Regions from separate parts of the Homo sapiens genome. Here regions 2, 3, 4, 5, 6 and 7 are each reported to be linked to region 1. The links are microRNA targets in miRTarBase. Many come from high-throughput screens and were not tested one by one. Region 1 holds a microRNA gene; each other region holds the end of a gene's coding sequence.
What was found. Region 1 holds the annotated microRNA hsa-miR-4262 (GACAUUCAGACUACCUG, at 1,269-1,285, opposite strand). A microRNA usually pairs through its seed, bases 2 to 8, with sites in the 3' UTR of a target mRNA and lowers its output. Matches are read on the target gene's strand: a 7mer-m8 pairs with bases 2 to 8, a 7mer-A1 pairs with bases 2 to 7 and ends in A, and an 8mer does both.

Region 1 (4,360 bases):
CAGATGGAATAAAAGGGATTGTCCTTGAAGAATCTGACTAGTGAGAAAACATTATAGAGTGGAGAAGAGAGCAGGCAAGAGCTGTGTCTGTTGTCCCTGCTGGTCAATTTCTCTTTCCCCTTTTCCACCTCTTTCCCCCCGCCTCTCTTTTTGCCCTTCCTTTCTTTCTTTCTCCCTTTATTTTGTTGGCTTTTTATAGTTTTCAGTCTACTGTTTTTTTTGAAACCAAAATAACATATTCACATAGTTTTAAAAGTTGAAGATTTTTACCAGAAGACACACAAAATCCACATGGCTGGTCCTACTTGCCCCCCTCCCCCACACCCCTCCTGATTCTCATTTTCAACCCTTGCCCCTGTTTATTCTGGAATTTACTTTGATATTTTTAAGTAAAATGAACATACTACAATATTTCGATTAATGAAATTTAGGCATTCCTTATTGACTTACGATGCCAGATGAAGTTTTTGTCTTTCATATGTGCTTTTTCCCATCCCTAAGCCTTATAGTATAAAAATATCATGTTTTTTTTTATTTCTATAACTTTTGGCCTTCCCTGGAGTTAATATGCTCCATTTTTTATGGCTCATTATTTTTTCAAATTATTACTAACTCCTTCCTCAGCCCCCAAAAAATGTTATGGGAAAAAAATCTCTGTAATATTTTCCACATTGTTAAATACATGTCTCCTTTTTTCCTCCTGGAAACCCTCCCACTAAAGTGCTCTCCCCGCACATTCCAGTCTAACAGGGCTGCTCTGACCCCCAACAAGCCATCAATCTGGAGTCTTCTCTGCTTTTCTCCTTAATTGGAGGCCCTGTCTCCAAGATCCCAAATGGATTGTTCTTAATTTTTTTTTGTGGTATCCATCTCTAATTTTGTGAGTCTACCCTTCAGTCTACCCTTCTGAAGACATTAGTTATAGTGTCTGTGAAATTTTCTTCTGTTTCCTGAATTATCTCAATAGTAACTCCTCAAATTTTGCTCGTTTGCTTTGGTTTCTATGGGCGACTTCCCTCAAGTGTCTGGTAATACTTTATATCTGTTTATATGTAAGAGAGATGCACTAAAACGTTGTGGGGTTGGGAGGTGCCTGTGCAGGATGGCAGGTGTCTGCGTCTATCTGTGGGTAGGTGTGGGTATATGAGTGTGGGTCTGTGTCTGTGGGGTGTATATGGGTGTGTGTGTGGGTGTCTGTGTTGTGAACATGGGGGGTGTGGGTGTCTCTTTGTGGGGTGTGCAGGTCCTGTCAGCCATGGGCTCTGCTGCAGGTAGTCTGAATGTCCCCCCAACATCAGCACCTGCAGCTTTCCTCTCTGGGGTGGTTTGGTATCTGCAGAGAGGCTGCCTGGCCTCATGGCGGGAGGTGGAGCTTGTGGTGAACGGCCTGTCACATGCCACAGTTGGACCAGGGAAGCAGCCGAGGAGCCCTACTGCTCACTGTGCAAGTGCCTCCAATGCCCACTTTTAGTCTAGCACCTTGTCCTGCCTCTTTTCCCCAACTCCAGGACAATGCACCTGTCATTAGCCACTCCAATGCCTATATCTCAAATTCCCACTGTCTACAGAATCATTCCCATCATCATACAGATCTGCTGTGATGTGTCCCATCAGCGTAAAACCAGCCCCAACTCATATTCCTCTCCATGACCACTCATTTCTCTGCTTCCCTTTATGGCCAAATTCTTGGAAGAGATGACTATATAGTCTGCCCTTCCAATCCATGGGTTTGATATCTGTGGATTCAACCAAGCATGGGTCAAAGATATTTGGGAAAAAATCTGTCTTTACTGAACACATCCAGACTTTTTTTCTTATCATGATTTCCTAACCCATAGAGTATAGCAACTATTAACATGGCATTTACATTGTATTAGGCATTATAAGCAATCTAGGGATTATTTAAAGTACACAGAAGATGTGCATAGGTTGCATAAAGATACTATGCCATTTTATATCAGGGGCTTGACATCCATGAATTTTGAGATCCACAAGGGTCCCGAAACCAATCCACCATGGACACCAGAAGCTGACTGTCCTTGCTTTTCCCCTTCCTCCCTTTCCTTCCCTCTTGCACCCACTCCAAGCTGACCTTTGGCTCCCACTCCACGGTACCCACTCAATGTCTTCAATGAACTCCAAGGGACAGAGCCAAGCAGTTTAGTCTCCATCTTACTTGGCCCAACAGTCAGGGAGGAATTTGGTTATGATTTGTCTCTTGCTCCTTCCTCAAAGTCTGGAAGACGTTTCCACCCAGGGAACAGGGAAAACAGGGCAATGGACGGGCAGCAGTGTGGCTGGAGGACTGGCTCTGAAGTGCAGCAGGGATGCTGTTAAGGGGTGAGCAGGGCCACATCATGAGCCAGGTGGCCTGGCCTCATTTCCCATGCACTTGGTGGCCACTAAAGGGAGGAGGAGTGGGGAATGGCAGAGTTGGGTGATGCTTTAGAGGGATCACCCAGGTGGTGGTGGTGACAGATGGGAGGGGCTGGGCAGGAGCAAGGAACCTTACCTGAAGACTCCAGGTGGCTCAGAATGGAGAAACTGAAGGTCCAAACTGAGGCAGTGACACAGGCATGAAGGAGGGGAGCCGAGGAGAGCCGGGGAGGAAGCTGGGATCACTTCCAAGTCTCTAGCACAGACACATGAGTGCATGGAGGGCCCATTACAGAGTCCAGCAGCCCAGAAACACAGAGCCGGCTGAGGCCTGCATGGAAGTCCAGAGGTCCACCTGAGGCAGGTTGAGTGGTTGACCCTGAGGAACAGCCAGCGAGTGGCCAGTGAGGCAACGTGTTCAGTCTGGACATGCCTCATTGTTCCAAACAAGGTGACAGGGGAGAGGCAGCTCCTGCTGGAGAAGCCGCTGGTGAAGGTCCACTCTGCAGAGTTTCAGAATGGTGCCAGCCCTTCCAGGCTGCTCCTTGTCCATTCCCTGCCCCGTCAGCCAGCCTTGGCTGCCCTTTCAAGGACACATGAAGCCACAGGAACAGGGAGGGCCAGTCTGCGTGGTGAGGTGACCCCTGACACATGCTGAGGTCTCCCCTGTGCTGGGAGGCTGGAGGGCATGCCTCGGCCTCTCTGGGGTCCCCAAAGCACAGCTCTAAGTGCCCATGTGCACCCAGCAGGCTTCTGATCTCTCCCCTCCCCACACCTGGCTGAGTGGGTACCTGGCTGTCTTCATACCTATAGACAGGTAGGTGCAGTGCCTCATTTGGCCTCAGACCCAGGTGTGATCTCCATACCAGCTCTTCTTGTATTTTTCCAGAGTGAATGGGGGTTGTTGACAACTTGTCCAGATGAGTGAAACTGACATTTGCTTCCTATGTGCCTGTGTATTCTTTAAACAATTTTTAAATATTTTTAATAAAGGAAAAATGAATATATTTATGGTGTAAAACGTGATGCTTTGATATTTATATACTTTGAGGACCGTGATAATGTATTATATTCTTTAAAACTGCTAAGGGAGTAGATTTTATTTATTTATTTATTTATCGAGATGCAGTCTTACTCTGTCACCCAGGCTGGAGCGCAGTGGCGTCATCTCAGTTCACGGCAACCTCTGCCTACCAGGTTCAAGCAATTCTCATGCCTCAGCCCACTGAGTAGCTGGGATTACAGATGTGTGCCACCACGTGTGGCTAATTTTTGTATTTGTTTTTGTAGAGACAGGGTTTCACTATGTTCACCAGGCTGGTCTGGAACTCCCAACTTCAGGTGATCCGCCTGCCTTGGCCTCCTAGAGTGCTGGGATTACAGGCGTGAGCCACCATGCCCAGCTGAGAGTAGATTTTAAATGTTCTCATCACAAAAAAAGGGTAAGTATATGAGGTGAAGGATATACCAATTAACTGAATCATGCTGCAGTGGATACGTTCATCAATGGCTGTTAATTCTGTTATGTTTATATGCATTGCAATTGAGGAATGGAGGAGGAGTAATTGATATTTATGGCACATTTTGGCTGGAAATCTTTGAGAATACCCCTTGTGAGTTTTGCATGAAAAGGAGATTTTCAGGGTGGGGAGCTGAGCCTTGATTTGCAGGATCTCCAGCCTCACTTGTTCTGCACGGGATGCAGCGGCTTGTGTGTCCCATCAGAATGACGGCTGCAGCTGATGCTGGTGAGAGAGATTAAGAACAGAGCACCTTCTGCACCTCATCAGCAGGGATTCTTAATCTGGGTTGTAGGCTAAAATTAACTGGGGGAGGGGGCCAATTTAAACAATTACTAATGCCCAAGTCCCAACCCAAACCAATTGAATCTGAGTCTCTATCTACACCCTCCAAGTGGGGTCAACTTGGAGTGTTTACATCATAAACTCTGATTGTCATTGTGGATTTGAAAGACTCAGACTGT
Region 2 (4,360 bases), not on the chromosome of region 1:
AAAAATGTGGAATGTGTGAGCAGCCGATCAATCATGGCCATTGAGAACACACTTCTTATGGTTAGCGCTAAAAAAAATCTAGAAGAATTAAGAGCAATTCCAGTAGGAAGATATAAGCACTTTCTTCGAGTTGTTTTTAACAATATGACATTCTTAAAATTTACCCAAAAGCAAAATTCAAGCATCAACATATTTTTTAAAGAATGCAAAATTATACATTAATACACACACACACACAGTTAGTATACAGTACTGGTTTAACTAAACCATAGTTTTTGCCAGTAGGAGTGAAAGTTACTATTCATAGACATGTCATTAATATAAATGTGTTTTAAAATAGTTATTAAGGAACAATGTTCCAATTAGTTTGGTAGTCAATTTGATTTTAAATGAGTGGCTTTTTTTAGCCTACAAAGGCAATCATCCAAGTAATCTGAGAAATAAATACTTGTTTGATTCTCTAACTCAAACAGTATTTCAACTAATAAATTTTGACCCTAAAACTGCAGTTGTGGATTTTTCTAAGAACAATTAAGCTGTTTGAAATTTATGGAAATTTACTAATTTCAAACTAAATTTTTCTTATAGAAAACTTCCATCTTCCTTGGCAGTTAAAAAAAAATCCCCAAGCTATTAATAATGTGTGCAATTAAAGTGTATTTACCTACTTTATAAGACAAGTATATTTTTATTATATTAACTTGTCTTATTTTAGGATGGAAAAGACATGTAGAAATTATAAGCAATACCTTTCTTCCTTTCTTTCTTTTTTTCCTCATTCTCTCCCTTCTTCCTTTCTGTATCTATTCTTCATTTCCTCTCTCCCTCCCCTCCTCTTGGTCTTTCTCTTTTTTCTCTTTTTAGATTTCACCATATAACCCAAGATATCTGCTTTTTTCCTAGGTGAGCCAAGGCATCATTCATGGATAGCAAAGGTCTGCCCCTGCAAGGTGTCTTAAATGGAATCTCATCAGTAGGAGCTGAATTTGGACAAATTAAGAAATCCAAAAGATGCCATTTGTTTATTACTGTATAAAAGCATTGTTGTTATTGGTCAAGTTATTAGGCTGTAGTGGATTTGCTAATACTTTAGCCAACATGTATTAAAGTGATTTTAATACATGCTGATTACAATGCAATACATACTGATTGAAAATATTCATATTCATCTAATTTTAGAAAAATATTGCCTAGATCATTCTCTATTCCTGTTTCTTACTTTTTCTGTTAATATTTCCAACAGGGAATGCCAGTCCACAGACACAAATTTAATACTGCTTTAAATTTTCTCCTATCCTTTTAGTCCCTGAATTATATAATAAACAATGTTAAAACCAATGTAGTACACAATACTTACTTACAAATTTAATACTGCTTCAAGGTATTTAATCTAAAATTTTACCAACTTTGATTTGTCTGGTTAGGATATTTTGTTTTAGTGGATATGCTTTAATTCGGATCAATTACTGCAGTAAATCTCATCCCTAAGCATGAAATGTTGTCAACAAATACCCAGTTCCATTTAGTTATCAATTAGCCCAAATAAGAGATACAAAGTATAACAGTGACCAACCTTGTACTGTTGAGTTAATTTGAACTTCTAATGACATTGAGGCTAATGTCTTTAGCTCAAGGTTGATCTTGTTGGCCATATAGATGTGAACTAGGGAAGGGGAATCAACTTACAGCATATCACAATTGATCCTTATTAAGTATAAACTCTTGTAGGTCTTTTCCCAGAAAGAAGCTTGACTAGCAGGAATTCTAAAACTGAAATATATCAAACAGCATAAATAGGAATAGACATAAAGTGCTCTTCTATTAAAGCCTTTGGTGATCTATTTACTATGATTTATATTGTACAGTTCCTCGATTTACAGAAAATCATCAAAATTATTAATCTACATATCTTATGTATATAAATATTGCCTAATCCATAGAAAAAAGGATATAAAGTATTAAATATGTGATATATAGCTATATCTATCTATCTATGTATCTAATAGGGAAGTCCAAGTCACTTCAATTGAAGAAACATATCTCTGAGCATAGGAGCAGCCTCAGGTCCTATGGTGGGATGCAGTGGACAGGAGAGGGGGAAATTAGAAAAGAGAACTATATAATTGAAAAAGGGATATAAAGCATTAAATATATGATATATAGCTATATCTATGTATGTATCTAACAGAGAAGTTCAAGTCACTTCAATTAAAGAAACATTTTTGAGCATGGGACCAGCCTCAGGTCTTATGCTGGGATGCAGTAGACAGGAGATGGGGAAATTAGAAAAGAGAACTGTGTAATTGAAATGACGTGGGCTGCACCCTTAAGGAACTTATAATTAATGATGATCTGAATAAACATACCAGGATAAAGATGTCAAATGAGTGTGACTCCCTTAAAGTAGATTAAAGTGTGCATTCTTTGTTTCCTAAAATATGATTTTACTGCTTGAAATTACATTTGAGTTGAAGTTTAGAAACTAACATAGCATTAATATGAATAATCATGGAAAATTATTATCCTTTGAAAACTGATTGATAAATATATTCCCCCTCCTTTAGAAACAGTCAAAAGCCACTTCAAACAAGTTTCAAAATAAAGGAAGGTAGCAAGTTAGGCGATGGATTATATTTTCTTGCTTGTTGTATACCAGTTGTCAAGGACATTATAAGGACTCCCAAAAGCATTTTGAAGGATGGCAATATCAAATAAGTGTATGTCCTCTCAAATGAGGCATTTTTAATTGTTAAAATCTATTTGGACGCTCAGGTTATGATATGTTTATGAAAAATAAGCTTCATTATTTTTATAGCTACATCCTATTATTCCCTTTTAGAAACAAGAATAACAATAGGTTTTAATAGTTGCCATACTTAGCATTTATCAGTTCTAATGAAACCAATATTGAATCTCTGATAAATATTTTCTGATGTTACTAGCTATGGGAAATTAGAACTGGCACAACCCTGACATTACTAAGTGGAAATGTTAGGATTTTTCGGCATCGCATGTTAGAATCTCTAAAATTTAAACATTCCTGTTAAATGACTAAGGTTTGCTTTTATCAATATGAATTCTGAAGGCCAATATCATACCATTAACTATGAAAGCTTTTAATTCCTAAAAATAGTTTTAGAGATATTCAAGCAATGCTCTCCTAATATCCATACGCAAGTGTGTTTATGACACAAATTCACTAGTCTGTTTAAAAATGAATTCTTTATATTGACTGGTGTTCCACATATTTCAGTAATTTCTGTTATGAGAGGACTTGAAATAGCAAATTGCCACACAGTTAACTGGATAGACCACGTACGTGGTGATCATAACCACTTGGTACTACACCCAGAAACTCAAAATTGTCTTTCTCCTGATGAGATATGGGTGTCCTTTTGTACGTCTAGGCCTAGGTAACCAGTGGAGTGATTATATTAGCAAATGTGTTTGTATCCGGAGTCTTCCTGTCATTGTAATAAAAAATTTATTTAAAAATTTTGTCTTGTGTTTCTTTTTTGGTAATCATCTTGGTGATATTTATGAATGTATTTGTGTGTGTGTGTGTGTGTGTATACATACATATATATGTGTGTATATATATACACACATATATATACACATATATATGTGTGTATATATATATATATATGGCATATCCCCCAAAGGAATATCATATTTTCATTTGCAAGCCTTGATTCTTTGACTTGCTGTTGAGTTTCACATTGGCTCCATTGTATATTGCAGGAAAAAGTACCTGGAAAGCCTGGAGGGTTAAAAGCAGAGGCTCCTCGGCAGCGTGTCCAGGCCGTGTGTGCTTGCTGTGCTTGTCAGAGCCTCATTCCCTCCCCTGTGTTGGAGAGCTTTCTCACAGGGCTCATCCAGAGGTGCTAGAAAGCAATGTGAGCACTATTAAACACTTCAAATATAAGGAAAAATGTATAATGTTAGAAACACACAGTTAAAAAGTAGCCCCAGGTATCAAACATTCTGTTACTATTTTAGAAACTAAATTAAGGCTGCTTTGAACATGATGGTATTAGAAAAATGGTAGAATACAGTTTGTTAAATATTAATATTCTATCTTTAGATGATAGCATTTGGTGACTTTTATTTCTTTTCTCATACATTTTTTCCAGTGTTCTGTATTTTTAAAATCCTTTCATAATTATTATAATGAACACTTTAGAAAAGATACTATTTCTCTTCCATCCTTAGAGGGCACATTATAATAATTGAGTATTTTAAAATTAAATTTTATGCCATGTATTTAAAATGAAAGTTCAGGTTACATTAATTCCAACTGATTTTAAAGCCTTATTTTCACAGAGTGGACTCATTCAATTTTTTAAATTTTATATTC
Region 3 (4,360 bases), not on the chromosome of region 1:
CCAGGGTAAGAGAAGCTGAGAGTACAGCTGGCTCCTTCCTCCAGTCTCAGGGAAGAAACGGCACACTTGGAGACACAAATTTTTTTAATGTAAAATAACATTGAGAGTTCACCTAAACATCTGTCTTAGAAATTCAGGTTGAGGGCTATGAAGGGAAGAGATGCTGTTAGAACAGAGGGAAGTGGGTGACCTCTCCAAAGACAGACGTGCTCCGACGGAGAGCTGGGGTGTTCCCGCGGTAGCCAAACCTTCCACTGAACCCACTGACCAGTTTGACATCAGCATTGTAGTGGCCATCTGCTGGAGAGGATGCCCTTGGGGGCAAGGAGAGAGAGGCCTGAGCCTGCTTCCAGTCCACCTCTTGGCTTCCCCATTCCCCTGGGTGTGGTATGGGATGCCAACCAGGTGTAGTCACTGCATTCCCCATGCCCACAGCCAAACACGCAATCCTCAAATGTCCTGAGCCTCTGGGCTGAAAAGCCAAGGGCTGGTGAGGTTGAGGGACAGAAGGCTTCCTAGAAATAAAACCCTGCACCAGGAATAATTGCGGGAAGACTGTGAATGGTTTGTGCTGGGACAGGAGGGGCCAGAAATTCTGGGCTTGGCAGAGCTTGCCTTTCTCCCACGAGAAATGAGAAAAATCTCACCCTTGTCTCTGACCCATGTGGAAAAAATGGATGAGATCAAGATCAATTGGACCAAATGGTACAAAGGATCATGTGAGTAGAGGAGTGGCCCAGGATGGTGGAGTTGGGCTGGGAGGAGGGTTTACCCTGTTAGAAAAGTATCTCTCAACTCTTTCCCATTGTTGTTAACCTGGGCCTGGAAAATGAGCAGGACACAGCAGTGAGGGGAACAGGGGCTTCAGAGTTGGGAAGAGCGGAATCTTAATCCCAGCTCAGCCCTTCTTGCCAAACCACTTTAACTCAACAAACTTGTTTCCCAAACTGTGCCGTGGGGTTAGTGTGAGGGTGAGAAGTGTCTTACAAATGGCTCGTGTCTGTAATGCCAGCACTTTGGGAGGCTGAGGCCAGAGGATCACTTGAGCCTAGGAGTTCAAGACCAGCCTGGGAAACATAGGGAGACGCCATCTCTACAAAAAATAAAAAATTAACTGAGTGTGGTGGTGCACACCTGTGGGCCCAACTGCTCAGAAGACTGAGGTGGGAGGATTGCTCAAGCCCAAGGAGGTCAAGACTGCAGTGAGTAGTAATTGTGCTACTGCAACTCATGCACTCCAGCTTGGGCGACAGAGTGAGACCATGTCTCAAAAAAAAAAAAAGGTGGGGGGGGCCTGACATACAGTAGGTGCTTATTAGCTAGTATCAGGGAGTACTGTGCCACCATCTGCTTGTGTATGTGAAGAAAAGCTGGAAAGATGCAGTCCCTGGGCCTCTTCCCCTCAACCAGGCTTTGCTATGGCCCAGGAACCATCATGAGGCTGGAAATGGAGGCAGCACTTGCCTGTCTCTGCCCAACTTCTCCTGTTGAGGTATCTCTGTCCTTTCCTGAAGATGTGGAGGATGCATTCTACTATCCAGCCATCCCTTCCTGTGCCACCATGATCCTGAATGTGGGAAAGAGAATACAGAAGACTGTCAGCCACAATGCTGAGGGGGCACAGTGCAAACTGCCCTGGGGTTTGCTGGTGGGAGAAGGAAGAGGTCAGAGCCTTAGATAACTGGGGCGGACGGATTAAATATATTTAAGAATCGGGCCAGGTGCGGTGGCTCAGGCCTATAATCCCAGCACTTTGGGAGGCTGAGGCGGGCAGATCACCTGAGGTCAGGAGTTTGAGGCCAGCCTGACCAACATGTAGAAACCCCCATCTCTACTAAAAATACAAAATTAGCCAGGCGTGGTGGCACGCGCCTATAATCCAACCTACTCGGGAGGCTGAGGCAGGAGAATCACTAGAACCCAGGAGGTGGAGGGTGCGGTGAGAGCGCCATTGCACTCCAGCCTGGGCAACAAGTATAAAACACCATCTCAAAAAAAAAAAAAAAATTTGGTTCTTTATAGAATATGCTGTATTAGTCAGGGTACTGGCAGGAAACATTCAAGTGGGTAACTGCGAGTCTACCTAGTGAGGCATTCTGGGCCAGCAACAGTGAGGTGTGATGACCAGCTGTAGGTCTGAAGGGACAAATGAAGAGTTGCTGGAACCCGGCTCTCTCTGAGCGCTTTCCAATAGAAGTGGTGGGTTTTGGTTACAGCCACCCACAGCCCAACCAGAAGGGAGCCGGGGAACCACTCCCTCTCCTCTTGCCCTCTGTGTTCTACTGCTGCTTCCCACTGGCTGAACCTACCTAGCTGCTGGGAGCCAGGGAACCCTGACCTAGTCCAGAGGTGAGTCTTTTGGGCATGCACAGAGCAGGGTGGAGATGGACAGATGATGAGGGCAGAGTGGGTCTGGAGGGGCCCAGGGAAGCTCTCCAGGAAGGCTATGAAAGCTGGTCCCAGCAGCCCAAGCTCATGATCTCCTAAGTCATTCACAGAAGTGCATGTCACACCATGATTCTTCTCTTGGTTTTATTGTTTGGTAGAAAAACAGGCTCTTTAACACTGAATAAACATCTCACGAACTGTCGCTCCTAGATTACAAAAAGTCAAAACCAATTTCCTTTGACGCCGGGCCCTTGAATCTGACATTCAAGTCACCGTAATAGAAACCAGAGCTGCTGAACCTTACATTCTGGAAGGTGCTTGAACAAAGGCATGTTAAGGACCGTTTAAAACTTCTAGCATGTAAGAAGATCCATCTTTCCTTCCAACGCCTTTGGATAATAACAGCAGAATCCCGGAGATCTGCTGCTGAGTTTGAGAAGGCCAAGTTTAAGGATTCCAAACTCCAGCCTTCAATATTTCTGCAGAAACTTAGAGAAGTAACCTCCCCGTCCTCTCCGCTGGCTTCCCCAAGTACAGATGCAGGATGCAGGTCTTTCTTCCTGCTACCCAGGCACCGAGGACTCAAACCATCTCACCGTCTCATCACTGGGCTTCTTCAATGGGCTCTTGGAGGAAGAAGCTTTTCGTTTTTGCCAATCTTCAGTCCTTAGAAAAGTCCTTTTTGTTAAGAAAAGGCAGGGAGGGTTAACTAAGTTCTAAGAATTCAATAAGAAAAGGAAAGAGGTACCTTTTATGAAAAGGACTTCCAAGCTCTCTCAGCCAGCAATTTAACTCAAATAACTTTCCTGAGCATCTCCACACGGAACATTCAGCACTTCTCTCCTAGCAGCCAGAGGATGGGATCTGTGTACACTGAGTGTCACTTAAAACACCCTCATTAGATGCAGTAAAAAGTTACGCTTTACTCCCGTAAGTCAAATCCACATGGCTCTGGGCTGTGCCCTGCAGAATTAGCTGTAGGAGTAACAGTAAAGGTCCTGCCCGACAGCCATGAGCAGCCCCGGCGCGCCCCGGGAGCCCCCCAGCCGCGACGAGAAGGCCACACTGGGAATGTCGGCCTTGGAGGCAGGGTACGGGGAGGGTATGGTTCTCAGTAGGCGGGCATCGTGGAGGCTCCAGATTCTCGTGTAGCAGTCCTGGCCCACTAGGAAAGAGGAGAGACACATGGCAGGCTAGTGAGAGAATGCAAAGGAAAACTTACCTACATGTGGACATGGCTTCCCAAGATTCCTCAGGGCTGTGATTTCATGTGAGCCAAAACACAAACTCATTAACGGACAGTATTTCTACGGATAACCCAAGTCGCCCTGTTGTGCTAGAACAATGACAAGATGCCCTGGTTGGCTGTGTGATGCCATGAATGGCTCGGAGACATCCTGGCTAATGTCTGGGTATTCTGCTGCTCTTGATGTCACGGAACGTTCAAGTGCGAGTGTGGCCCACCTGGTCTAGGTGACATGCAACTGATTTCCCCCATTTTTTAGGGACAGGGTCTTGCTCTGTCGCCCGGGCTGGAGTGCAGTGGTGTGATCAGGGCTCACTGCAGCCTTGAACTCCTGGGCCCAAGCCATCCTTCTGCCTCAGCCTCCTGAGTTAACTGGGACTACAAGTGTGTGCCGCCATGCCTAATTTTTTTTTTTTTTGAGATAGGGTCTTGCTGTGTTGCCCCAGCTGGTCTTAAACTCCTGGCCTCAAGCTCCCTAAGTGCTGGAATTATAGCTACCACACCTGGCCTGATCTTTTCATGTTATAGTAAAAGATCTGTCAAAGTCATTACATCCTGGGGATGGGCTAGGTTGACAACTCTCCCCACAGCTCTTTCTGGTTTAATGCTTCAGTTCCTAGGACCGGTTTAAGTCTTCAGGGCTCCAGTTCTGAGGACTGTGACACACAACAGCATGGGTTACAGCAGCCCAGAAACATGATATACACTACTGGAGACCTTCAGCAG
Region 4 (4,318 bases), not on the chromosome of region 1:
AGCCTGAAAGAGCTCGGAGGACTGTCGGAAGGGAAAAAAGTTTTGGTGACAGCAGCAGCTGGGGGAACGGGCCAGTTTGCCATGCAGCTTTCAAAGAAGGCAAAGTGCCATGTAATTGGAACCTGCTCTTCTGATGAAAAGTCTGCTTTTCTGAAATCTCTTGGCTGTGATCGTCCTATCAACTATAAAACTGAACCCGTAGGTACCGTCCTTAAGCAGGAGTACCCTGAAGGTGTCGATGTGGTCTATGAATCTGTTGGGGGAGCCATGTTTGACTTGGCTGTAGACGCCCTGGCTACGAAAGGGCGCTTGATAGTAATAGGGTTTATCTCTGGCTACCAAACTCCTACTGGCCTTTCGCCTGTGAAAGCAGGAACATTGCCAGCCAAACTGCTCAAGAAATCTGCCAGCGTACAGGGCTTCTTCCTGAACCATTACCTTTCTAAGTATCAAGCAGCCATGAGCCACTTGCTCGAGATGTGTGTGAGCGGAGACCTGGTTTGTGAGGTGGACCTTGGAGATCTGTCTCCAGAGGGCAGGTTTACTGGCCTGGAGTCCATATTCCGTGCTGTCAATTATATGTACATGGGAAAAAACACTGGAAAAATTGTAGTTGAATTACCTCACTCTGTCAACAGTAAGCTGTAAAAACAGAACAATGACATAAATCAAGGGAGAAAGAAAATGGGCACTTTATGTCTCAGAATTACTCAAATCAATTTATTTTTAGTTGGTAATGGATATAATATTTCTTAAAACAAAAGTAAGGTGTTAATGAATAGGTCTCTCCTTCTCCTCCTCCTCCTCCTCTTCCCTTGGGGGAAAAAAAAAAATGTGCTAATAAAACTTCCCTCCATGGCTAAGAGGGAAAACGCTTACATTCAATTCTTTAGTCATGGATGGTCTCGTTCCAGATGTTATTGTTCCAGGGAACTAAATTCATTCCTGATGCCAGATCTGATCGAGTCAGTATGTCTTCAGCTTGATCAGATTTTAAAATCAGTTTTGAAAGTGGTTCCCGACTTCTTTGCTTTGGGAGAATTTGGTCTTATGCTCATAAGCAGTTCATGAGTGACAAGTGTAGCAAAAGCCAGCCATATATTTTCAGAATCTATATCCTCAGGAAATGGTCCTTTTTTTTTCTATAAATCACCAACCAACTATCTAAATGGACATTTGGGGGAATTCCCTCCCAAATTTGATTTTGTTATTAGAAAAATGATTCCGTGAACACAGATGTGTTTTGAAGAAGTAGCACGTAATGGCTTTTATCTACCATCAACCTGATAAGGCACATGTGAAATGGAAATGTTCTCTTTCCTCTGAAGCAGCAAATTAATGTTGAAAACTTACATAGACAGAAAGTAGGTTTTGGAAAGGGAAACCACAGAGATTAGGGGGACTTAAAATTAATATAGGCACAGGAAAGAGAAAAGTGTGCGCTCCATTCTCAGTGGGGGTTCACCACAAAACACGGGCCCCAGGAGGGAAGCGCTGTCTAGGCACACGGCAAGGCCTTAGTAACAGCATGCTACACTGCTCGAGGTACGGTATGTCCCATCGCCCTGTGCACCGTAGAGACCTCAGTCATCTCAAGGAAGAATACATTTGCTTCTCCTTAGAGGCGTTCGAACTAGAAGCTATGCGTTACCTCTGATTCTGGAAACAGAATAGCAGCCACTCATTCTGCATTCCCATTTTTCTCTCCACGTGTTCTGGTGGAATGAGATGCTCCTTGGCACTATAGCCTGATGTCCCACATTGACCCACTGACCACACAGGAAAAGCAGCGAAACCTGCACCCTCTCTTCTGAGTCACGCCTGTGGCTCATCGGCTTCCCTCTTAACCTTTAGTGCCCTGAAGACTGCTGCCGCTGTCACCGTTGCGCTGAAACCCCATGGGCCCGTTCTGATTGAAGGTGAAGCCCACCAGATTATTTTTCAAAGTCTTAGGTTTCGGTGTATCTAACCTGCTCAGTAAATATGGACGCAATTAAAGATGCTCTAGGAAATTTGGGGACTGTATTTAATTTTTCTTTCCTTCCATCTGAGGAGCAAGGAAATCCTACTGCTGAATAGCTGTTAGTATCTATTTTACAAGATTTACTCATTTTCAGGTACCTAATGTAGCTGCTAGCATGCATGCACAACAATACAATTTATATGGTAAATGGAACCAAATAATGGCTTCACTGAATGTTATGGCTGCACTGAAGGGAAATGTCACGGTAAATAGCTGCCAAATTATGGATCATGCCGAAGTGTCACAACTGCACTAAAGACAAATAGCACTAGAGGCTATTGCCACTGTGACGCTTTTGAGTTATGAAGAAGGGTAGCGGCCTGATGCGAGGCTCTTTGTGTCCTCATTATAGCAAAGGGTTACTGGTGCAGGGGACTAGGAAAAACCCGTCCAGTGTGGTGCTTAGTTATTCATCCATCCCTTTCAGACCTAACAGCCACAGCCACACGGAAAGAGACTTTGCCTCACTTTTACATTCACAAACAAACAAAGGAGGGGGGAGCAGGTTTTATGAATGTAACTGTGCACAGGAAATGACTGGTAATGGAAAAAATGTTGTAATAAAATAATCTAATCAAAGAATATTATTAAATTTAACATAGTCTATGTCCAAAAGGCTTAGTTGCTTCTTATGCAGATAGATGTGTGAAATCTAAGCAGTAATGTACTTTCTCCCTTTGTAAAGACTTGGGGAGTAAGGACATTACCAACTAAATTGCTTCTTCGAAACTGAAGTGAGTCCCGGTTTGTTTCATTTTAATGGGAGGGTAATAAAGATGAAAGACCAACATTTTAACTGATGGATCCCTTAAGCTACAGAATAGAAATTTATTGTGTTTTGAGGGAATATACTAAATGCAGCTATGTAAAAATAAAATTCAAACGCCCAGGATTAAAATAAAATATAATCTGAAAACCTCATGTTCTCTCTTTCCCCAAACTAAGAAAGTGCACTGCATGCTGTTTTCACTTATTCTTAGAAAACAAGCATGAAAGATTCCGCCCATTCAGATAATGCCAAAAATATGTTTAAACTTTTTTTTATTCTTTTGAAAAATGATTTGTAAATTGAGGGTCATAGTTCAGCATCAGTTTCATCTTCTGGGATTATTGTTCAAGACCAGCCTCTAATGGGAGGTGAAACGGTACGATGGTCTCAACACCTTTCTTCTGAACTGTAATACATATCACAAAAAGTACATCCATAATTCAGGGCAATTGTCAGTCTTTTTAGAGAAGGGGCCAGGGTGGAACAATCCCAGTGAGTAAATTATTTCTCAGCGTGGACTTCTCTGCATGTCGGGCTTAAGGTCACCAGCCGGGCAGGGTGGAAGGAGCTTGCCTCTTTGAGAAACCAAGGAGTCCCAGTGATCTGTTACCATTTGGTTATGACTTCTAAAGAGCCAAATGCTATTCCTTCAAGCCTGTTTTGCAGGCAGAAAATACCAGCAGTGTCATTTAGGGGTTCCTTTGATGATGACTACTGCTGTTAACTGACCTCAGCATTAAAAAAAAAAAAATTCAGGGAATAGTTTGCAAAGAAATGAAGGAAGTTTTGCATGATATATTCTATAACTTGTCATTATATGATTTCATCTGGATGAAGTTCCTCAGGAGTAGGATAGAGCCTCTGTAAATGGTCATTAGTATTACATTCTGTGTTTATCTAATGAAAGTGCAGTGACAAGTAGCTGCTTCTTATTAAAATGAAAATCCTGCATTATGTACTTGAGGAACATTCCAGCTAATGAGGATGTAATGTCCTCAGTACAACGCAGACCTTCTTTTTGTGTTCACCACCACAAGATGCTGGAAGCTTGACAAATGATATCATTTAAGACACATGCCTGCCTTAGGGACCTGGTTTTTGGCTTCCTGTTTCTGGCTTTTATTTGGGTAACGTTTATAATGGCCACCCGACTTGTACCTGGGTAATGTTTTAACCCCTTCCCCAGAGTTCTCAATTAGCATGAATTTACTACAGTCAGAGTTTCCTTTAAATTGGGGTGGGGGTGCTAAGCACTGAAAATATCTTTCTTGATTACTTTACCATGTGGACATATGGGATAAATACTGTATTTCAGATTTACATAAAAGTAGATTAGTAATGCACAGCTTTCAGAATAAAAACTGATAAAAAAGACCAAGCACTATCAACTTTGGACAGTAATTTCCTAGGTGTTAAACAAGTTTTCTGAATACAATCTGGATGCAAAACGGCCTGATTTGATGAATTCATAATTTTCTTCTGTATACTTTCATTTTATTAAATATTTTATTACTTGGTTAAACACA
Region 5 (4,360 bases), not on the chromosome of region 1:
TCTGAGAATTCATACTGGTGAGAAACCTTATGAATGTAAAGAATGTGGGAAAGCCTTTACTCAACACTCAAGGCTTATTCAGCATCAGAGAATGCATACTGGTGAGAAACCTTATGAATGTAAGCAGTGTGGGAAGGCCTTTAATAGTGCCTCAACACTTACTAACCATCACAGAATTCATGCTGGTGAGAAGCTCTATGAATGTGAAGAATGTAGAAAGGCCTTTATTCAGAGCTCAGAACTTATTCAACATCAGAGAATCCATACAGATGAAAAACCATATGAATGTAATGAATGTGGGAAGGCCTTTAATAAAGGCTCAAATCTTACTCGACATCAGAGAATTCACACTGGTGAGAAACCCTATGACTGTAAGGAATGTGGAAAGGCTTTTGGTAGTCGCTCTGACCTCATTCGCCATGAGGGAATTCATACTGGTTGAATGACAGTAAAGTAAGACCATTTTGTTAACCTTTATAATAATTTTTTTAAAACAGGTAAGGAGAACAAATTAGGATACATATTATCAAAGGTTCTCCTATGTATTCGTTTTTAAACGATACGATAACAAAGTACCAAGTACCAAAACCTTGGTGGCTTAAAACAAGAGAAATTTATTCTCTCATAGTTTAGAGCCTGGAAATCTAAACTCAAGGGTGCTGATCGTTTTGGTTCCTTCTGAGGACTCTGAGGATCTGTTCTATGCCTTTTTCCTAACCTCTGTTAACAGCTGGCAGTCCTTGGCATTCCATGGCTTTTACATACACCATTCCAATCTCTGCCTCCATCTTCACATTGCATTCTCGCTGTGTATCTCTGTGTATGTCTTTTATTTGGACACCAGTCAGGTTAGATTGGGGTTACCTGGTGACCTCATCTTAACTTGATTATATCTGCCAAGACCCTGTTTCCAAGTAAGGTCACATTTACCGGTACCAGGGGTTAGGACTTCAGCATATCTTTTTAGGGGATACAGTTCAACCCATAATACCCTGTTAGAATGATTTTGTCTAATATATTTGTAATTTCCTTTTATACATAAGTTGTTAGTCAAATTTATTTTATTTTATTTTATTTTGAGACAGAGTCTCGCTCTGTTGCCCAGGCTGGAGTGCAGTGGTGTGATCTCAGCTCACTGCAACCTCCAGCTCCTGAGTTCAAGCGATTCTTGTGCCTCAGCCTCTCAAGTAGTTGGGATTACAGGCATGCGCCACCATGCCCGGCTAATTTTTTTTTTTTTTTTTTTTGTATTTTTAGTAGCGACGGGGTTTCACCATGTTGGCCAGGCTGGTCTTGAACTCCTGACTTCAAGTGATCTGCCCGCCTCAGCCTCCCAAAGTGCTGGGATTACAGACGTGAGCCACCGTGATGGCCAAAACAGACTTTATACCAACAAAAATTAAAAAGGACAAAGAAGGTCATTTATAATGATAAAGGATAAATTCAACAAGAAGATAAAACAATCCTAAATATGTATGCACCCAACACTGCAACACCCAGATCCATAACACAGATACTACTAGACCTAAGAAAAGAGATAGACAGCAATACAACAATAGCAGGGGACTTCACCACTCCATTGACAGCACTAGACAGATCACTGGGACAGAAATCAACAAAGAAACTCTGGACTTAAATTGGACTCTACACCAAATGGACCCAACAGACATCTGAAGAACATTCTACCCAACAACCACAGAATATATACTCTTCTCTTCTGTGCATGGAACATTCTCAAAAATAGGTCATATACTGGACCACAAAGCAAGTATCAATAAATTTTAAAAAAACAAAATCATATCTAACATCTTCTCTGACCATAGTGGAATAAAACTAGATATCAATACCAAGAGGAACTCTCAAAACAGATACATGGAATTTAAACAGCTTGCTCCTGAATGATTTTTGGATCAATGATGAAACTAAGGTGGAAATTTAAAATTTTTTGAAATAAATGAAAATAGAGACAAAACACATGAAAACATCTGAGATACAGCAAAAGCAGTGCTAAGAGAGGATTTTATAGCATTAAATGCCTACACCAAAAAGATAGAAAAATCTCAAATGAATAGCCTAACGTCACATCTCAAGGAACTAGGAAAAAACAAAACAAACTCAACCCAAAGCTGGCAGAAGAAAAGCAATAACAAATATCAGAGCAGGCAAAAATGAGACTGAGAACAAAGGAATGCAAAAGATCAATAAAAGAAAAAGTTGGTTCTTTGCAAAGATAAAACTGACAGACCACTAGCTAGATTAACCAAGAAAAAAAGAAGATTCAAATAAATACAATCAGAAATGATAAGGTGATATTATAACTGATAACACAGACATATAAAATATCAGCAGAAACTATATGCACATATTAGAAAACCTAGAGGAAGTGGATAAATTCCTAGAAACACATAACCTTCCAAGATTGAACCAGGGAGAAATAGGAATCCTCAACAGACTACTGAGTATTGAAATTGAATCAGTAATAGAAAAAAATCTTGCAAAAACAAAAAGCCCAGGACCAGACAGATTCACAGCTGAATTCTACTAGACATGCAAGGAAGAACTAGTAACAGCACTATTGAAACTATTCCAAAAATTATAGGAGGGAATCCTCCCTAACTCATTCTACAAAGCCAGTATCATCCTGATACTGAAGCCAGGCAAGGATAAAACACACAAAAAAACTACAAGCCAATATCCCTGATGAAAATAGACACAAAAATCTTCAGCAAAATACTAGCAAACCAAATCAAACAGTACATAAAAAAGATAGTAACAGCACAGTCAAGTGGATTTTATTCCTGGGGTGTAAGGATGGCTCAACATATGCAACTCAATACATGATTCATCACATACACAGAATTAAAAATAAGCCAGGCACTCACACCTGTAATCCCAGCACTTTGCAAGGCCAAGGCGGGCAGATCACATGATGTCAAGAGTTTGAGACCAGTCTGGCTGACATGGCGAAACCCTGTCTCTACTAAAAATAGAAAAATTGGCTGGGCATGGTGGCAGGCACTGTAGTCCCAGCTACTTGGGAGGCTGAGGCAGGAGAATTACTTGAACCTGAGAAGCGGAGGTTGCAGTGAGCTGAGATAGTGCCATTGCACTCCAGCCTGGGCAACAGAGCAAATTGCTTGAATGTGGGAGGTGGAGGTTGCAGTGAGCCGAGATTATGCCATTGCACTCCAGCCGGGGGAGCAACAAAGCCAGACTCCATCTCAAAAAAAAACCAAAAAAAATCCTATTTAGTACAAGGTACATTATTTAGGTAATGAGTCCATTAAAAGCCAACACTTTCCCCACTACACTATATGTGTATGTAACACAACTGCCCTTGTAACTTCCTAAACCTATAATTAAGAAACAATAAAAGGCAAATTAAGAATGCTTTTTTAAAAGGTGGGGGCATTATGCTAATAAGTTACTGTGGATTTCAGAGTGCAGAGTAGAAAGATCACAAGAATTTAGTGTGGTAGGTGGGAACAGAAAATGGGTGTATAAATTTTATTGACGTGGGAGTACTGGATATTGTAGAGACAGATATCATCAGGGCAAGGAGATTAAAGATTTTTGCATTGACGGTTTGACACTATATTGTGGTAATAACACTGTATGTGTTGGGAGATAGAACAGGAAACATCTTCCCTGGAATATGTATACTATTAAATGTTTTATCAAACTTTTGATCAAACAAGACAGCACAATTTATAATTTCATTTCTATTTCTATGTTATGAGAAACTGATCATTTATTCAAATGTTTAACAGGCATGTTCATGTTACTATAAACTCTTCTGTTTCACCATCACGTTGTTGGTCATCTTTACTGATTACAAATTTCTTTACATATTTAAGAAATATATATATTTCTTTATATATTAAGGTTAGTGTTTGTCATATGTTGTTTCAGTAACTTTTCCTAATCTTTTGGCCTCTTTGGTATTTTTTAATAAGCAGAAATCTTTTTCACATGTAGTAAAATTTACAGTTTTTCCTGTACACATAACTATTATTTTTTCTAGATTAATATTTCTGCAGATTTGGAGTCATCCAAGAATTTAAATTGTACCTCAGGCAAAATCATGAGAATGACTTTAGGATCACTGTTACTGGCTCTAGAGTTCAGGAGACCCAATAAGTAGAGTGTGCCATTAGATGGAGTAAAATGTTGAAGAGGACCAAAATGATTCTGAGTCTCGAATCTTGACTTTTAGCCTAGCATGTCAGGAAACAGTGGTCTGGGCTCTACGTGTGTTCCTTTTGTAAAACATGGATCTAATATCATAGATGTAAATGACTCCATGTAATAACATTACTCAAATCATGATAAATCCGGCTCTGTGGATACACAGGAATGA
Region 6 (4,315 bases), not on the chromosome of region 1:
TACCCAAGTTGAAAATCAGTCCCTTGGGAGAGGGCAGGTCACATGGAAATCAGCACAGCAGCCCCTGCCTGTCCACGCCGCGCTGGGGGACACTCCTGCACCCGGCACAGCTCCTCTCAGTTGCCGAAACATAAAGAGACGCTAACAGGTGGTCCTTAGGGGCCTGGCAGGTACTGTGGAGTCAACAGGCCCTGCCAGGGAGCCCGCCCGGGCTGTGGTAGACAGTTTGTCTGCCCGTCCTGTTCGCTGGAGCCAGCACTATTTTGTGTTCATTTGACCTGACAGTTGTAAGTCATCTTCAACCACGATAATGTTGAAGTCGTGATTCCATCACTTCTGTGTGCTCACATCTTGTGTTCTGTTGCAGGGAAGTGGGAATGTCCTTGGCATCATTGTGACGTGTGTGGCAAACCTTCGACTTCATTTTGCCACCTCTGCCCCAATTCGTTCTGTAAGGAGCACCAGGACGGGACAGCCTTCAGCTGCACCCCGGACGGGCGGTCCTACTGCTGTGAGCATGACTTAGGGGCGGCATCGGTCAGAAGCACCAAGACTGAGAAGCCCCCCCCAGAGCCAGGGAAGCCGAAGGGGAAGAGGCGGCGGCGGAGGGGCTGGCGGAGAGTCACAGAGGGCAAATAGCGCCAGGCGGCCGCTTGGCCGGATCCAGGGGCGGTGCAGGGCGGCCGGCCCTGCCTGCGGGAGAGGGCGAGCATGAACTGGCCCGGAGGACCCAGCTCGAGCCGCCAGGACACAGACGTACAGGCCTCCTCGGGAGGGAGCGCCTCCCCACCACTGAGCCATCCTCAGCAGCGTCCGCTGCGTCTGCACTGATGACCGTCTGAGCCCAGCTCAGCGTTCCTGGACAAACAGCCTCACTCCTCAGCGTTACCGCCACACTTGAATTTCTCCGAATGTCAAGGTTCCCTCCCACTCTATTTTTTTAGGTTAAAGTTAATTGGCATATGGAATGTTTTAATCTCCTCTGAAATGTGTAGCGTAGGCTTTTCCCAAGGGTCGCTAGAAACTCGTCTTCGCGTTGCCCCCTTTCTGGCTCTCAGCGCCGTCGCCACTCGGGAGAGGCTGGGTGAGGCCCGTGTGAGGACTGACCCTGGATTCCTCGAAACTGCCATTGTGATCATTACTCTGCTCTTTGGAAATGGCTGTATCATTTTTTTGTACTAATGTGAATTGTTCCTCAGAAACGCTTCTTTTCCATCCTAGTGAGAAGCTGGCCCTGCAGGTGGTGGCAGCAATGGTGTTGTAAGATTTCCTCCCGTAGTTTTTTCTCCTCATGGATTTGAATGAAATGCCAATAACACGTCCACTTTCAACGTGTAGTTTACGCGGAGCACTTTCGAGGCCTGGCCGGGTTGGGCCTACTTCTCACCTGGGCCTATCTTCTGAACTCGCTAGGTTCTTATCAACATTTGGGGGATAACTTTGTATATTTTTTTCATTTGGCTTTTCTTTACCAGTTTCTGATTTTTATTCTCAATATATTTTTGCTAAACCTATTTCACAAATCACCACCGACTGAAGTGTGTGTTTACTGATGCGGCCCTGAGCTCCATGGCGAAAGGAGTGACTTTGCAGGGCGTGAGACCGCAGTCTGCTTAGAGCACAGGAAGTGACAACTTAGGGAGCCCCGTAGGGCGCTGCAGGCCCCGGGGACCCCAGCACGTGGGTCTAAAGAGAGACGGAGTCTAGCTCTCCTGCCACCCAGAGTGGCTTCCATCTCAGCACTCTGTGGGTCTGGTGATGGAAGATGCAGTCTCTGCTGATCACATGTGCCCTCTGCCAGGGCACCTACTGAGAGGTGCGGTCCTGGGGGTGGAGGCCTGCCTGGCAGGTGTGCGTGCCTCGTACGTGTGTTATGGGCACTGGTCTAGGCCAGGTATGACACCCACTCTCCTGTGAGATTTCACTTTAGTTTTTAAAAGGTCCAGTTCTACAGAGTGAGACCTATCTATCTGAGTACTACATATGTTTTAAGACTTGGTTCTTTTTTTGAGGGATCCTTGACCCTGGGAAGTCTGGAGCACCCTGAGAAGGGGGCACCATGTGTGCCTTTGCCCACGTGTCCTGAGGGGCTGCTTGTCTGGGAGGGAGGGAGAGAACATTCAGCAGCAGGTGCTTTTTTATGGCCTTTTCTTAAAATAACCTAAGGGGGACACATCCATCTTGCAGAGAAGTTTACAGAACTCCCCTTGAAAACTGCTGCTGAGGCTCCTGTTAAATTTTCTGTGGCATCTTTTATGCCTTGGTAAAAACTGCAGTGTCTTTGGACCTGAGAGTGGCTACTCCGTGGTTTTGTGACCTGTAAGCGTGGGGTTCAGGGGTGTGTGGCCCTGCAGGGTCCCACGCCTCCCTGAGCACTGACTGGAAGTTTCACTGGCTGGTGGCTGTCCCTTCTCCCATCAGGGTCCCCAGCAAAGTTAACTACACAGAGGACCCAGGGGAAACGAGCTGTGTAGCCACTGACTTGCTCGCGCGGCCGTGGCCTCTGAGGGGCACTCGCCGGTTAAGACAGGGTGGGAGTAGTGCTTTCCAGTTCAGACTCTAACTTCTCCCAAAGTGTCCTAAGAAAATACTGGATCGGCTCATAGATTTATGCTCCTTATGATGCCCTAACTTGGAAGGTTGTTCTAGGGACAGGCCGGGCAGTGTCCCCACACACACCTTAGAGTCGAAGGCCCCAGGGCCCCGCTGTCACTTGCCCAAAAGATCCCTTCCGGCAGGTAAGGGACTACCAATGCTTACGTCAAAACAGCAGAATCGGCTTTGCAGTGCACTTTGGGGAGCAGATATTAACTTATTTTTGTGTTGGACAGTAGTGAAATCTTGTGATTTTTAATCGCTTTGATAATACTTCCAAATTTTATGATTTTTCTGAAGGAAATAATGCAAACATTTTAAATATGTTTCTCCCCCTTTCCAAAAACTGTTAAACTAATGAGCAAGTAACACTAACTTTGAATGTCTCTACAATACCCGTTGATAACTCAGTGGAGCCAGGCTTTGGGGTAGCGGCCCTGAGCTTGCAGGGTTTCTCGCCACTGGGGCTGACCACGCCCCCAGCTGTGACCGTGGGTGTGGCTGGCTCTCGGCCCTGCCCAGCTTTGTTCTGAGGACGTGGTGACTTCCTGAACATCAGCTTCAATCCTCCATCATTAATGTGAAGCAAAACACAAAAACCGCCCCAATCCCTCAGGATTCCTTGGCATCCGAAACCAGCATCTGCACCTAAACCCATACCCACCCGTGTGCGCCCACAGGGGGATGTGTCCGAATGGGCAGCTTAAAATGTGGTCACCTGTGGGGGAAACTCTTCAGGCACCTGAAGTGAGAACCCAGCTGTCCGTCCTCAGGCCGGCCTTTCTTCCGGCGACACCCGTCCATGGCTGGCTGGGTCCCCTTCGCAGTGTTTGTCTGTCTTGACATCTAAACCCCGGCGTGTGCAGTGCCCATCTTCCAGGACTACCTTATTTTCCAGAATTAAACCTGTTTTATAATTCAAGTTAATGCAAATGACTGTCAGTTGCCAAATATCTTGATCCTATGAGTGTAGTTGATGACTGTTTGTTAGTCAGTAGAGTAAAATGCTGTGTCCACGGGGTGTCACAGCCTCACCATACCCTGTTGAGGTGTGAAATGCCCCGTCAGAAATTAAATACAAACTTAAATGTGCCTATTGGTGTCTAAACTTCATACAATGTAAGGTCAGATTCCTTTTAGGAATACTGGGTGCTGTCACCAGGTTTGATAGTTAGACTTAAAAACTTGAAATTCACTTTTTGGGGGGAGGGATATACTGAAATAGAGAGTTGAGACTTGCCAGTTGGGGGAAAATAGCATTTAAAATGGAAAGCTGTGTTTGGAAAATTGTGTATGAGTATTTTTGTATTAAAAACATTTTAAAGGCTTTTTTCTTAACTTATTTTATATGGGATTGTTTGATTTTTTTTCCAGTTACTTTGAATTGCAAAGCATCGGGTGTGGCACTGATGCCTCCGATGGGTGGGGCTCCCTGTCCTGACTGTGTCATTTTGCCTTTGACCTGACCCGCTGGGGAGAGGCAGTGCCACCTTGGGAAGTATAACAACAAATACTGGAAATAGCAGGCATAACTGACTGACTTTGGAAAAATGCTTTCTTCTTCTTTCAGAAATAATTTGCTTCCCAAATTCCCATTAAGGGTGAAATGGTCTAGAGAGAAGGAAGCACTGCTGTCCCCCAGCCCTGCAGTCGGCTGAGCCGGGTGGTCCCCAGGCCCACAGCCAAGTAAGTCAAGGGAGTACCCCGAGGGCTGATCCTA
Region 7 (4,360 bases), not on the chromosome of region 1:
CTCAAGCTCAGAGAGGCTAATTTGCCTTCATTAGTAAGTAGATTGACACTGAGGCAGGCAGGCTCTAGATCCCGTGCTCTTCACCTCTCAACTGCAGTACAGTTCACATCTCCATGGGAGGTTAGCAGAGAAAAGCAAATATCGAAGCTGTGTTCTTTGTTAACAGTTCTTTCAGAGGTATTATTTGATCTTTCTTAAATAAATGCCAAGACTGCCTTCTGACAGTAGGCTTATTCTCACATCGTAGTGTTTGGATTTGAAAAATGTTTTACATTTTCAACCTAGCAACTGTGTTTTTGTTAAGAAGTAATTGTTGCCATATCACAGGTGAAGAAACAAGCTCAGAGGACTTTCTCTAGGGCAAACCTGCGTTTGTAGATAGGAATAAGAAATGAAGCTCTCAGGTAGTGAATAAGAATGTAGTTTGTGAGACAGTGTATTTAGAATGATTCTTTAGTTTACATTGCTGCCCTAAATATATTGTGCTGTTCAGTATTAATTATGCCAAAGACCTTAATATTTCATCCTTCAACTCATGTATGTGTATTACTCCATTTCCAGGGTTTGAATGCCGGTGTGGAAATGTTTACTGTGGTGTACACCGTTACTCAGATGTACACAATTGCTCTTACAATTACAAAGCCGATGCTGCTGAGAAAATCAGAAAAGAAAATCCAGTAGTTGTTGGTGAAAAGATCCAAAAGATTTGAACTCCTGCTGGAATACAAAATTCTTGAGCATCTGCAAACTAAAAATTGACTTGAGGTTTTTTTTTTCCTAGTCATTGGGAATGTAGAGCAGTGTATCTTGCATGTCATCGGAAGAATAGATTTTTGTTTTGGTTTTGTTTTGAAAATGACTCTGAACATTTATTTCCATTGCAATTTCTGTGGCTGAGGAGACTTAAACTTTACAAGTATTATCCTTTTAAGATCATTTTAATTTTAGTTGAGTGCAGAGGGCTTTTATAACAAACGTGCAGAAATTTTGGAGGGCTGTGATTTTTCCAGTATTAAACATGCATGCATTAATCTTGCAGTTTATTTTCTCATTGTGTATGTATATATCGCTTTTCTCTGCAGCACGATTTCTCTTTTGATAATGCCCTTTAGGGCACAACTAGTTATCAGTAACTGAATGTATCTTAATCATTATGGCTGCTTCTGTTTTTTCATTAACAAAGGTTATTCATATGTTAGCATATAGTTTCTTTGCACCCACTATTTATGTCTGAATCATTTGTCACAAGAGAGTGTGTGCTGATGAGATTGTAAGTTTGTGTGTTTAAACTTTTTTTTGAGCGAGGGAAGAAAAAGCTGTATGCATTTCATTGCTGTCTACAGGTTTCTTTCAGATTATGTTCATGGGTTTGTGTGTATACAATATGAAGAATGATCTGAAGTAATTGTGCTGTATTTATGTTTATTCACCAGTCTTTGATTAAATAAAAAGGAAAACCAGAATGCTCCCTTGTATTACTTTTTCTCTTATTCTTTCTGGTAGTTAATTTTATTTTTTGGTCTTTTAGTTTTCTACTTTCCTAATTTTGTAAGAGAACTACCATTATTTGTCTTGCATCTATTTGTGACTAAGCTTATGATCATGAATTGTAATTTTGTATTCCTCTGAGTTGAAGACCTGAGCATATCTTCAGAGGCAAGCACTCCTCTCTGTTACTTAAATGTATTTTTTAGTCCTTGTCTGATTCCCTTTTCTACACTGTCACACTCAATTAACATCTAATAGAAGCTTTTTCTTGTAGGATTGGAGAAATTTTAAGAGTATAATTCAAACTGCAGGGCAATTGTAGAATTGCGGAGTAGAAAGACCCTTGAAAGATCATTTGTCCTGTGGTTTTCAAATGTGTCTGGTAGCCAAACGTTTTTAAACATGAAATGTCATATAAAACAGATGAAGGCAATAATTTTACAATATAAATTTCTCAGTTTAAAATTATTTACTTACTTGCATGTTCTATTTAAATAAAGGATGGTTTAATTATCAAAATCTGTAAATTGATCACATTAACAGATTATAAAGAGAATAAACCGTTATGACTGTCTTAATAGATTCAGGTAGAGTAATAGAATTTAACAGCCATTCGTGATAAGAAAAATTAAACTTGACAAATTAAGACTAGAAAGGAATTTCCTTAAGCTGATAGTTCTATGTGAAATCAACAGCCAAACAAACAAAACCAAGCATCAGCTAAAAAGAGGAAACTTACTTCCTTTTAAAGTCAGAAACAAAGATGACTGCCCACTATTACTGCTTACTATTCAAAATTGTGTTGGAGATTATAATCAGTGGAGCAAGACAAGACAGAAAAATGATAAGAAAAGAGGTAGCACTCATTATTTGCACATTGTTTTTATAGAAAAATCATTACTAGAAATAATAGGGTTTAGTTAGGTAGCTAGATACAACATTCGTTTTTAGAAGACAGTTGCATTTCTTTACACCAGTTACCTAGAAAACCAGGAAACACCATTTGACAATAATACCAGAATCTTGGTTACCTAGGAAATTGACAATATATGTGGATGGCCTCCTCAAGAAAGAATTCTAAAACATTAAGGGATAATAGGAATTCAGTAAATAGATGTTAGTGGATAGGAAGACAGTATCAAAAAATGTCATCTGTCCCTCAGTAGGCATAGATTCAAGGTAATCCCAATCAAAATTCCACTTGATTTTTTTTCATGGAGCTTGTTTAGTTGATTGTAAAAGTAAAAGTTAAAAAGAGCAAAAGGCTAGAACATTTCAGAAGAGAGCAGGGAGACAGGGACTTGTCCTAAATGTCAGGACTCACTGTGAAGCCTTGTTAGTTAAAATAGCATGTTATTAGCTGATAGGGACAGACAGATACCTGAATTGAATAGATTGCCCAGAGAACTCTGCACGGACTGAACTTTGGTGTAAGAGAGAGGTGGCACATTGCATTCAGGAAAGGAGACTTCGATAATTAGAGCTAGAAGAATTGGTTTTCTGTATGAAAAAGGAAAAAACCCGTATGTTATGCCATAGGAAAAAAGGACTTAAAACAAAATTTGAAAACTCTCAGAAGAAAGATGGCTGCCTGTTAGGTCTTAGGATAGAGAGACTTCTTGGCCAGGCACAGTGGCTAACGTCGGTAATCCCATCACTTGGAGGCCGAGGCGGGCAGATCACAAGACCTGGCCAACATGGTGAAACCTCGTCTCTACTAAGAAATACAAAAATTAGCCAGGCGCAGTGGCACATGCCTGTAATCCCTACTACTAGGGAGGCTGAGGCAGGAAAATCACTTGAATCCGGAGGCAGAGGTTGCAGTGAGCTAAGATCGCACCACTGCACTCCAGCCTGGGTGACAGAGCAAGACTCCATCTCAAAAAATAAAAATAAAAAAAATAAGACACAAAGCATACTATAAATGTATTATTAATGAATTTATCTATTAAAAGGATATTTTATTCTCAAACACATTAAAGTATCTTCAAAGAATGTGAAAAGACAAAGGTGGGAGAAGTTCCACTGCAAATGAAGACTACCCATTCAAGCAACAAAAAATTAATCTGTCAGTATATAGTGTTGCCAAATTTCTGTGTGTTCTTGCATTGCTGGTGTTAGTGCAGTGGTTCAATCCTTGAGAAAGTTTGATACTGTCTTTTAAAGTGGAACTTTTACATACCCAATAGTCCAGAAATTGCACTCCCAAGTGCATACCTAGGAAAAACTTACACATAGATAAATGGGGGACCGCAGCCAGGAGCGGTGGCTCAAGCCTGTAATCCCAGCACTTTGGGAGGCCAAGGTGGATGGATCATGAGGTCAGGAGTTCGAGACCAGCATGGCCAAAACGGTGAAACCCCATTTCTACTAAAAATACAAAAATTAGCCAGGCACGGTGGCAGGTGCCTGTAATCCCAGCTACTGGGGAGGCTGAGGCAGGAGAATCTCGTGAACCCAAGAGGTGGAGATTGCAGTGAGCCAAGATCGCACCACTGCACTCTAGCCTGGGCAATAGAGTGAGATTCCATCTCAGAAAAAAAAAAAAGACAAATGGGGGACCACTACACGAAGTTTTATAGTGCTGTTTACAGAAGCAAAAGCCCAGAAACAAGTCTTCAAATCCCCAGTGAAGAAGAGTGGATGAATATAATGTGATATATTCATACACTGGAATAATACACTGTAACCAAAACTGCTGATCCATAGTGACACAACAAAATAGAAGCATATTATGCAAAAAAGTCTTCCAGTATAGTAAGCTTTAGAAATACAGGAAGAAGTGCAGTATAGTAAGCAAAACTAGTCTCAAAATATGCAACATGCTCACCTATAAACACTTTAAAATACATTCGCATGTAATAGGTTCCCC

Region 2: the mRNA of WDR72 is a reported target of hsa-miR-4262. Seed matches in the 3' UTR shown: 8mer at 3,541-3,548.
Region 3: miRTarBase lists DCAF4 as a target of hsa-miR-4262. Seed matches in the 3' UTR shown: 7mer-m8 at 3,214-3,220, 7mer-A1 at 2,690-2,696 and 7mer-m8 at 2,649-2,655.
Region 4: the mRNA of PTGR3 is a reported target of hsa-miR-4262. Seed matches in the 3' UTR shown: 7mer-m8 at 2,194-2,200 and 8mer at 2,535-2,542.
Region 5: the mRNA of ZNF829 is a reported target of hsa-miR-4262. Seed matches in the 3' UTR shown: 7mer-m8 at 3,139-3,145.
Region 6: miRTarBase lists NSD2 as a target of hsa-miR-4262. Seed matches in the 3' UTR shown: 7mer-m8 at 2,974-2,980.
Region 7: miRTarBase lists ZFAND6 as a target of hsa-miR-4262. Seed matches in the 3' UTR shown: 7mer-A1 at 789-795 and 8mer at 1,135-1,142.

What each region holds. Positions count from the first base shown.
Region 1 is chr2:11,835,675-11,840,034 of GRCh38, forward strand. MIR4262 (microRNA 4262) reads right to left here and starts at 1,312; the gene lies at 1,259-1,312. All of the region lies in intron 3 of LOC105373430 (a long non-coding RNA gene), which reads left to right.
Region 2 is chr15:53,514,298-53,518,657 of GRCh38, reverse strand. It overlaps WDR72 (WD repeat domain 72), which reads left to right. Exons shown (of 20, transcript NM_182758.4): 20 at 904-4,360. The coding sequence ends at 959. LOC105370826 (a long non-coding RNA gene) reads right to left here. Exons shown (of 7, transcript XR_007064645.1): 5 at 3,755-3,887. Among named protein-coding and RNA genes, the nearest start is that of WDR72, 240 kb to the left of the region's middle.
Region 3 is chr14:72,957,805-72,962,164 of GRCh38, reverse strand. It overlaps DCAF4 (DDB1 and CUL4 associated factor 4), which reads right to left. Exons shown (of 14, transcript NM_015604.4): 14 at 2,462-3,553. The coding sequence ends at 3,360. It also overlaps the pseudogene LOC100420966. Among named protein-coding and RNA genes, the nearest start is that of TRC-GCA8-1, 3.0 kb to the left of the region's middle.
Region 4 is chr18:75,197,746-75,202,063 of GRCh38, reverse strand. It overlaps PTGR3 (prostaglandin reductase 3), which reads left to right. Exons shown (of 2, transcript NM_175907.6): 2 at 1-4,318. The coding sequence ends at 648. Among named protein-coding and RNA genes, the nearest start is that of PTGR3, 9.2 kb to the left of the region's middle.
Region 5 is chr19:36,887,574-36,891,933 of GRCh38, reverse strand. It overlaps ZNF829 (zinc finger protein 829), which reads left to right. Exons shown (of 6, transcript NM_001037232.4): 6 at 1-3,810. The coding sequence ends at 442. It also overlaps a transcript of ZNF345 not described here. Among named protein-coding and RNA genes, the nearest start is that of ZNF829, 27 kb to the left of the region's middle. RefSeq lists an enhancer at 1-507.
Region 6 is chr4:1,978,271-1,982,585 of GRCh38, forward strand. It overlaps NSD2 (nuclear receptor binding SET domain protein 2), which reads left to right. Exons shown (of 22, transcript NM_001042424.3): 22 at 368-3,922. The coding sequence ends at 639. Among named protein-coding and RNA genes, the nearest start is that of MIR943, 6.0 kb to the right of the region's middle.
Region 7 is chr15:80,136,919-80,141,278 of GRCh38, forward strand. ZFAND6 (zinc finger AN1-type containing 6) reads left to right here. Exons shown (of 7, transcript NM_019006.4): 7 at 562-1,475. The coding sequence ends at 710. Among named protein-coding and RNA genes, the nearest start is that of FAH, 14 kb to the right of the region's middle.